Regions from separate parts of the Homo sapiens genome. Here region 1 is linked to region 2. Evidence: fine-mapped expression QTL. A gene starts in region 2. The other region holds a variant in brackets. All regions are shown on one strand. Distances are between the middles of the regions.

Region 1 (4,396 bases), 38 kb before region 2:
AGAGACTCAGAGAGCAAAATCAGCCAGAGAATGCCACCACACCTGAACAATCCTAGATAAATCAAATCATGAGTTACACTAGCTGTTGTTCTTCATCATAAATGCAAGGTGAACAATAACCGGAAAGGAAAGGACAAAGTCATGAGAACAGGATGAGCCACTGGATACCATGCAGATCATGAAGGGCACACTTTTCTCTTGTACCTTCAGATGACATCTTGGAGGAGAGGAAGAAGAATTCTGAGATACTAAGTATTTTACTCAAAAGAACTAAGCCAATCAAAACTATCCCAACAAGGTTTTCAATTTTGAAGACTAAAAGTTTAAGCCATCAGAATTATTCCATATGAATAAGTGGACCAAGTGGGACTAAATGCGGGTTTTCCAGATGAAGCTTGTGGACTCATATCATCCCAGGGGAAAAAAAAACGTAATATATAATGGGGAAGAGAGAAGAGTGAGTAGGACATGAGTGCAAGGTAAAGTAGCCTCTGATTTCTTTCCCTTATTCACTGTTAGCCCGGCCCAATAATGGAGTGATAATTTGTCATTCTTCCTTTCAATAGTAAATAAAGTAGCCCAACAGGTTTTTGTTCTAGGCCCTGTCCCAAATTTAATTCTTTGAATTTTAGGCAGCTAGATAATCAATCCAACCAAAGTCACAGTCAGAGGAAAAGGCAAAGAAAATAATCAAGAGATAGAGAAATGAATTTATGAGAGAAACTTTATTGGACACAGTCCTGCATGACTTTTAGATTACAAATGAGAAACATATAAGCCAAGTTGAATTGCTTAAGCTACTGAAAGCAAAAAGCAACAGCATATCCCAAAAGCTCAGATGTGGATTTCCAGGTATCTCAAAAAAATAAAATAAAAATATATCATGTAAACCTGCTTCAGCGTTCTGAGCCCTCACTACTGTTGATAGTGACATTCAGCTACTGGATCTCCAGTACAAGTCAGATGGCTCCCGGCACACCTTTAGCACAACCCTTTCTACTTATCCTGTTGCCCTACCCGATTCTGACTCTTTTCTCACACACACACACACACACACACACACACACTTCCCCACCATTCTTTTCAACCCCCTGTCCTGAGTTTAAGCAAATCTTACTGCTGTAAAGAAGCTGTTTGTATTTAACTTCTTACAAATACATCATTTACAAAATAATTTTGGGCGACTTGTATCTATTACTTGCAGCTCAAAATTATAGAGGCTAACCTGTTTTTTACGGAAGATAATTAACACAGTTTGTATGAACAAGTTCAGCTCCCCTGAACTTAAGAATACTTATCAAATGTCAAATGTTATTTATTAGTGAGAAAATGTAATTCCCACCTGCATCCCCAGAGGGATTTCAGTGACCCTGGCCTCACTTCATCCCTGCGGATCTAATTTGATATCCCCATTACTCTTCCAGAAATGAAGGATTTCAGTGCATATTTAAATGGTAATGAACTCAGTACATTAGATACTAGCTCAAATTAATTCAACTGATACAAACGGAGTACTCATTCTGTGCTATACTGACAAAGGACTTAAACTGAAAAACATGTCAAATTAAAAAGAATGCTAAAAGTGCAGGATCAACTATCCTAGAACCTGTGTAGACTAACAAAATGGTTGGGGAAAATAGACTATATGAGGCTATCTCCCAGGATTTAATATGGCTTTTTGTTTGCTTGCTTTTTTGAGACGGAGTCTTGTTCTTGTCGCCCAGGCTGGAGTGCAGTGGCGCAATCTCGGCTCATTGCAACCTCTGCCTCCTGGGTTCAAGCGATTCTCCTGCCTCAGCCTCCTGAGTAACTGGGATTACAGGTGCCTGCCACCAGGCCTGGCTAAATTTTTTTTTTTTTTGTACTTTTAGTAGGGACGGGGTTTCACCATGTTGACCAGGCTGGTCTCAAACTCCTGACCTCAAGTGATCCACCCACCTTGGCCTCCCAAAGTGCTGGGCTAACAGGCATGAGACACCATGCCCAGCCTTAATATGTTTTTTAATATAACTTTCTGACCTCTTACCCATGAAATGAGGAGACAAATTAAAGTTCCATAATTCCTTCCTATTTATTGTAATGCAAAAGTTAAATGTCTTGTTGTCTTCACTATTTTCATTCCTTCCTACAATGTTACTGAAGTAAGAAATTTATCTAGTCCAAAGAGAAAAAAAGCAATAATTACCAATGTGGGAAAAACTAAGATAGGAAAATAGAACAGAATAAATAAATGAAAAGAAGGGAGTTAAAATGTAAGACTAGAATATAACAAATGAAAAAAA[AC/C]ATGGATTTTTCAGCTCAGATTAAAAGCAAGCTACAACAAAAAATAATTATAACTCACTGGCTTTAATAATAAATGATCAAAAGGCAGTTGGAAGAATAAAAGAAATGAAAGAGAAAACAAGTATATGCAGATAGCTTTAAGGTAGAGAAAAAGGAATGCAAAAGACAAAAATAAAATAGCAAAGCTTTAAGAGAACTTATCAAAGTATTCTTCTGAGAACCTTCTTGGTAAAAGGCTCTCAGAATGAAATTTTGAGAAATATAAAAGGAAAAAATAAAATAAAATAAAACGAAAAAATTAAAACTAACTGGAAAGATACAGTAAAAATAGGTAGAAACTGTACAGAAAGAAAGACAAAATTTAAGATTAGAACAAAAGTGAGTACAGTTTTCTTTTTTTAATGACATAAAATTAACGAATGTTTTCCTGCCTCAGCATAAGCCTCAGATTTTTATTAATATCCAGGACAAGCAAGAAGATAGCTAAATGTGTTTTATTGCATTTTGGTATTAAAATTAATTGTTAAATAAGAACGTCATTAGGGTACTAAACCTCTGAATGTTGGATGAATTTGATACCTTTCCATCATATAGTAAAGAGAATTTCAAATATATTTGTAAAATGTAATTATATTCTCACATACTAAAAGGTTTTGATTAAAGTGGATTCTCAAATACTTAACTTTTAAAATAATCTCTGTGCTGCACAACACTTAAGTTTGCCTAATTATACTCTACTAACCCTATTAGAAGAAAAATGAGACTTTCATATTTAAACTGTAAGTCAGTACTTTGAGAACTCAAATTCACTAAGTATTATCCTTCCATTAAAAGGAGTTTTAATTAGAAGCAGTTTTAATTAGAAACTATTATTTCTATCACCTTTAATCAGTTTGCAAAATCCTCTGTCTCTCCTCAAGCATCCATCACTATTGAGCATCCTCTTCCTAAGATTTTATTTCTCATGGCACCTTTGATGAAATTCTCTACCGATCTTCCTACATCCTCATATTGCCCCTACATTTTAGAGTCTGACTTATCTTTTATTTCAAGATATTTTCCAGTGCTATAAAACATCTCATTTGCATCATCATTTTTTATCTTTCTCTCTTTGCCACAAAATAAGAATCAAGAGGGGAAAAAAGAAAGCTATAATCTGTGGATTTTACAGAAATTTCATATTGCTATTAAGGTATTAAGAATTCAAAGACTGGTTGAATTTTATTTCATGACAATTTCTTTGTACCACAAGGCACGACACACTACTTGATGGTAGAGTGGGAAAGCACACTATTATCTTAACTGTCATAACTGGAAGATGGAAAGATTCAAAAATACCTTTGTGAGTGGGCATTATCAACAAATTATGCTCAATGTCTTCCTGTACAATATGTCATGTAATGATTTATGATCTTCCATTCTTGAATAAGCTAATTCTCTGGTAACATTAAAATACATACAAAAGCTCTGAAAAAATAAGTATTTGAAATTCTCAACTAAAAATGAGCAAATTAGATGCCCAAAAGAAAGTATCTTACAGAAAAGTTATTTCTTAATACCTGCTATGTCACTGAGTTCCACTGGCCGAACAGTCAAAATGCCTTCATCATAGCTTTTCTGTAGTTAGAGGTACAGACGCCTTTTTCATTTATTTTTAGAATAGTATTCGTGCTCATAATGATGGTCTGTGCCAATATTGTTTTCAAGCCAATCTTTGATTACTACAGGATATAAGCCAAAAATAGAAAATAATGAACCTGCAATTGAGATAGGTAGCAGGTAGTTCTGAAGATAGAGTGCTTTGAAATGCCTTAGTCACATCTCACTCCGCTAAAAAGGCAGGAATAGACCAATGCAGGAATATTACTTGAAGCCAGGAATTCAAGACAGGCCTGAGTAACAAGGCAAGACCCCATCTCTACAAATTAAAAAGTAAAAAAGGAATTAGCTGAGCATGGTGGCTCACTCCTGTAGTCCAAGCTACTGAGGAGGCTGAGGCGGGAGGATCACCTGAACCCAGGGGGTCAAAGCTGCAGTGAGCTATGATTACTCACATCCATAACCTTTGAGCATCTACCATTTAAGGTAAGAGAGCACCCAGAAAACTGATCAA
Region 2 (4,396 bases):
GATTCCAGGATAATATTTGTGGTACCTTAGCTAATTTAGAGGTTTACATCTATAAATCACTTCCTAGATTTTCTCTTCACATTGTCTCAACCTTTAAGTGATTTTTCTTCCCTTGTTCCTATCCTGCAGTCCTTGGGTAAACAAATTGCTTAATCAATGCAAGTTTTTAAAACAGCAACTCCAAAAGCAAAGTAGGTCTAGGGGTCCTCTGAACAGAGAAAACTCTCCATTGAAATGGCAAAATATTTATGAGCCGGAGCACATTATAAAATTAAAATATAATCACTACTATATCCTTTAAAAATGTTTAGACCTCCTTTTCAGTGATTTGTTTGCAATAAGGAATTGCCAGCCCGGAGCAGTGGCTCACACCTGTAATGTCCGCATTTCTGGAGGCCAAGGCGGGCGGATCACGAAGTCAAGAGTTCGAGACCAGCCTGACCAACATGGTGAAACCCCATCTCTACTAAAAATACAAAAATTAGCCAGGCATGGTGGCGCGCGCCTGTAATCCCAGCTACTCAGGAGGCCGAGGCAGGAGAATCCCTTGAACCCGGGAGGCGGAGGTTGCAGTGAGCTGGAAATCATGGCACTGCACTCCAGCCTGAGCGACAGAGCCCGACTCCATGAAAGAAAGAAAGACAGAAATTAAAGAAAAGAAAAGAAATTGCCATGATCATATTCCAAACACAATGCCAAAGAAAAACACATTTAATGAATTAAATAGAATTCATGTGAAAAGTTTATTTTTTAATGACAGCTTAAAGAAACTTAGATAAAACTGACAAGAGCCAGTTTCTCATCACACGGATCAGATGGAGGGTGGAATAGGAGGGATAAATGCCTGAGACAAAATGTCAAAATCCATAATTACTTTTAAACTATAAAGACTTGGGGGATAAAAGAAAGTATATCCATGGTCAAATGTCAATACTTTACAAAAAAAAATGGGGTTTACAGGGATTCAACTACTTTTATATTCAATAAATTGGAAGACCTTGTTTCTGAAGCCAAAACAAAACCCTGTAGCTTCCTAGAAGTCCTTCCTTGGATTTCAGACAATACATCATTTATAATTGGGGGCAATACATACCCTTATATTCAACATACTTTTACTCATTTTTTTTCCTTTTTGGTTCCTGATAAGCATGTGATGTTTACTCCCGTGTCTCTCTCTCTCTCACACACGCACACCCACACACACATACACATACTTCATTGTTCCACAGAGGGTAGAACACACTTGTGGGCCTGTGGCATTTTCAAAAATAGGAATGAAAAAAAATAGTTTTATTTAGTCACGATGAAGTTAGCAAACACCCAAACACCCAAGTCTTTGTTTTTTTCCCAAGAACAACACCTACGAACTGCAACCTGTTAATTTAATTAAGAAAAATAGGGCTTTTACTCAGTTCCTAGGCTAGGAATCGCTGAAGCAAGGAAAGTTCAAGGTCTGCTCTCCCGCCGTATCTCTGCACACACACTGGAGCCGGGAGTTTGAGGACTCCCACCAAGAGCCTTTCGCCCGGGAGTCTCCTCTGCCCTTAGCCAGAGGGCTGGCGCGTCCCCCCTCCCTCCTTGACACTTCACCCTGCCTCTTTGGCTGCCATCCCCAGGAAGGCAGGAGCAGAGGCGCCGGAGAATTCGGGGGCCGGGCCGGGGTTCCGCGGCTGCTTCCGCACTCGCGGGCAGTGACGAGGTGGCAGCCGGGACACGGGCGGCAGGGCCGGGAGGGCTCCGCTGCGGCTGGACCGAACGGCTGGGGAGGCTCGCCCAACGCCCGGGCCCACGTACTCACCCGAAGGGTCGCGCGGGGCGCGGGGCGACTGCACACGGGATTCGCGGTCGAGCACAGCCCTCGGCGCGCCGGCGGCCTCGCTGGGAAGCGCGGCGAGACGGGCCGGCGGCGTCGCTGCCGCTGCTGCTGTCACGGAGCTATAAATACCGGCTCGGCCCACACCCGCCGCCGCCTACGCCGGGCGCCCTCCGCGCCGGTGCTTCACCGCGCCGCGCTCCCGCCGCAAAGTCCGCGGCCGCGGGCCGGGCAACGCGAGCGCAAGGGCACCGGCGCCGCGCAGGTGACCGCGATCATGCCAGCTGTGTGCAACCTCTGCAGCTGGAGGCATGGCTTCTCCCCGCCCCTGCCCTCTCGCCCGCACCACGGGCTGACTCCAGCCCGCGGGCCGCGTGCGCCACGGGCCGAGCCTGCCCGGGCCGGCCCGCCTCTGCAGAGCGGCAGCTGCAGGCGAGGGACGGACTCAGGAACCTGGTGGGGGTTGGGGGGCGGCTGACAGAAAATCCACCATCCTGCAGGGAACCAATGAGGGTCCCACTGGAATGTCCTCGAAGAGCTACAAACTTTCGAAAGCAATCTCAGGTCGCAAAACATGATTTCTGTTTTTGTCTGTTGGTGGTGTGGGGATGTGGGGGTGGGGAGAGGCAGAGCCCATGAGGAGTATGAGAAGTCTTCCACTTACTTTCCAACCTGCCTGGTATCACACACACACACACACATATGCACACATACACACATTCATACACACATAGAGATGCACAAATACACTCATGCATACATATGTATACACACATAAGCACACGTATACACATGCATACACACATATGTACATCAGCACACATACTCATGTACAATTTTTAAAGTTTTTGCAGTCTGAGGCTCTCCGGAGCCTGTCATTCTATGATACCTAAATGATACCTCTGCGGCATAGGGCAGGAAGACCCTTTGACTACATCTGACCAATTCCTCTCTTCCTGAATGTAACCTCCTTTCCATCATGTATGTGTGGCCTCTGTTTCCTTCCACACCTAATAGCAACTGCTACCTCAGTTTACCGGTTGCTGAAAACGTGTTAACAGCTGCTATCCAGCATGCTAATATTTTGTGGTAATGGAAGTTATCACTAGTGTATATAATCAAATGGAAAATAGGATTTCTATATGCCCATATTAGCAAACTTATGAAGGCAGAGCTAGGCCCTCCCCTGTACTGGTAGCCTGATTCAGGAATGGGTGGATGGCAAGAGGGAGAACTGAGATGTCCGCGGATTTTAAGATGGGATGGAGAGAGCCATGCCCAAGTGCCATAGGGTAGTTTATCTGCATAGGCATAATTGGGAATTCACTGCCATACTTCCCACTAATTTGACATTTTTCTAGCTTCCAAAAATGACCACGTATATATGGATATATATAAATATGCCTCTCATATATATGAGAGTGAACTCAATCCACTGCATAATCAATTGAACTACATGGGTGTCTACTAAAATGAGCTTCAGTTCATCAGAACCGAAATGTCATTCAGCAGCTTGTCTTCTGTCTTCTTAAGAAATAGAACCCCCACATCCCCACACCACTGGATATATAGTAGTCAATCATTTGTGATCATTTTACAGAACTCTTAACTAGTAAGGTTCTCTTTTGTAATGCTTTAACAAGTTTTGCCAGAAAGAGTTGTTGCCTATGCTAGCACTTGGTACATTTTACTATTACACTTTTGTTGTTCTTTTTTGCAACTTCTTTTTTCTCCCACTACGCTATGAACTCTTCAAGGGCAGAGATTAAATCTTACTCATGATTGTATCCTTAGTACCTAACATAGTAAGTTATAGTAATGGCTCATAGATAGTGGATTAATTCCACATATTAGTCATTATATTCCACTGTGCTTTTATAACTGTAATTAATATTATTCTCTAAAGAATTTTTAAACTGTTACACGTGGGTAACTGTTTAACAAAGGTTCCATATGCTATATTTTCCTTGTATCTCCATTTAAAGCAAGGACTCTTCAGTCAGTTAAAACTGAAAAATAGTAAAGCTTCACAAATTATACAGAATACTGAGGTCTGTAATTTATTTCTTTTATTACTACTATTTTCTTTGAGACAGAGTCTCACTCTGTACCCCAGGCTGGAGTGCAGTGGCACAATTATAGCCTACTGCAGCCTTGACCTGCTGGGCTCAAGTGATCCTCCCACCTCAGCCTCCAGAGTAGATGGGACAACAGGCACACACCACCACACCTGGCTAATTTTTGTATTTTTTGTAGAGACAGGGTTTTGCCACATTGTCCAGGCTGGTCTCAAACTCCTGAGCTCAAGTGATCTGCCCACCTCATCCTCTCAAAGTGCTGAGGTTACAGGTGTGAGCCACCATGCCCAGCCTATTTTTTTTTTCTTTTTTAAAGAGACAGAGTCTTGCTCTGTCACCCAGGCTGGCGTGCAGTGGTGCAATCACAGCTCATTGCAACTTCAAACTCCTGGGCTCAAGCAATCCTGCTGACTCACCCTCCCAAGTAGCTGGGACCACAGGTGCACACCACCACACCTAGCTAATTTTTTTTAATTCTGTAGAGACAGGGTCTACGTTGCCCACC

Evidence for each region. PIP is the estimated chance that this variant, and not a neighbour inherited with it, causes the effect.
Region 1: its variant is the best candidate, but not a certain one, in a credible set for the expression of TMEM117 in whole blood (INTERVAL, PIP 0.55).

The regions. Positions count from the first base shown.
Region 1 is chr12:43,871,892-43,876,287 of GRCh38, reverse strand. All of the region lies in intron 2 of TMEM117 (transmembrane protein 117), which reads right to left. Among named protein-coding and RNA genes, the nearest start is that of TMEM117, 38 kb to the right of the region's middle. The variant AC/C (reference allele first, on the strand shown) is at 2,283.
Region 2 is chr12:43,833,599-43,837,994 of GRCh38, reverse strand. It overlaps TMEM117 (transmembrane protein 117), which reads right to left and starts at 1,914. Exons shown (of 8, transcript NM_032256.3): 1 at 1,799-1,914. RefSeq lists silencers at 1,441-1,673, 1,660-2,099, 2,130-2,239.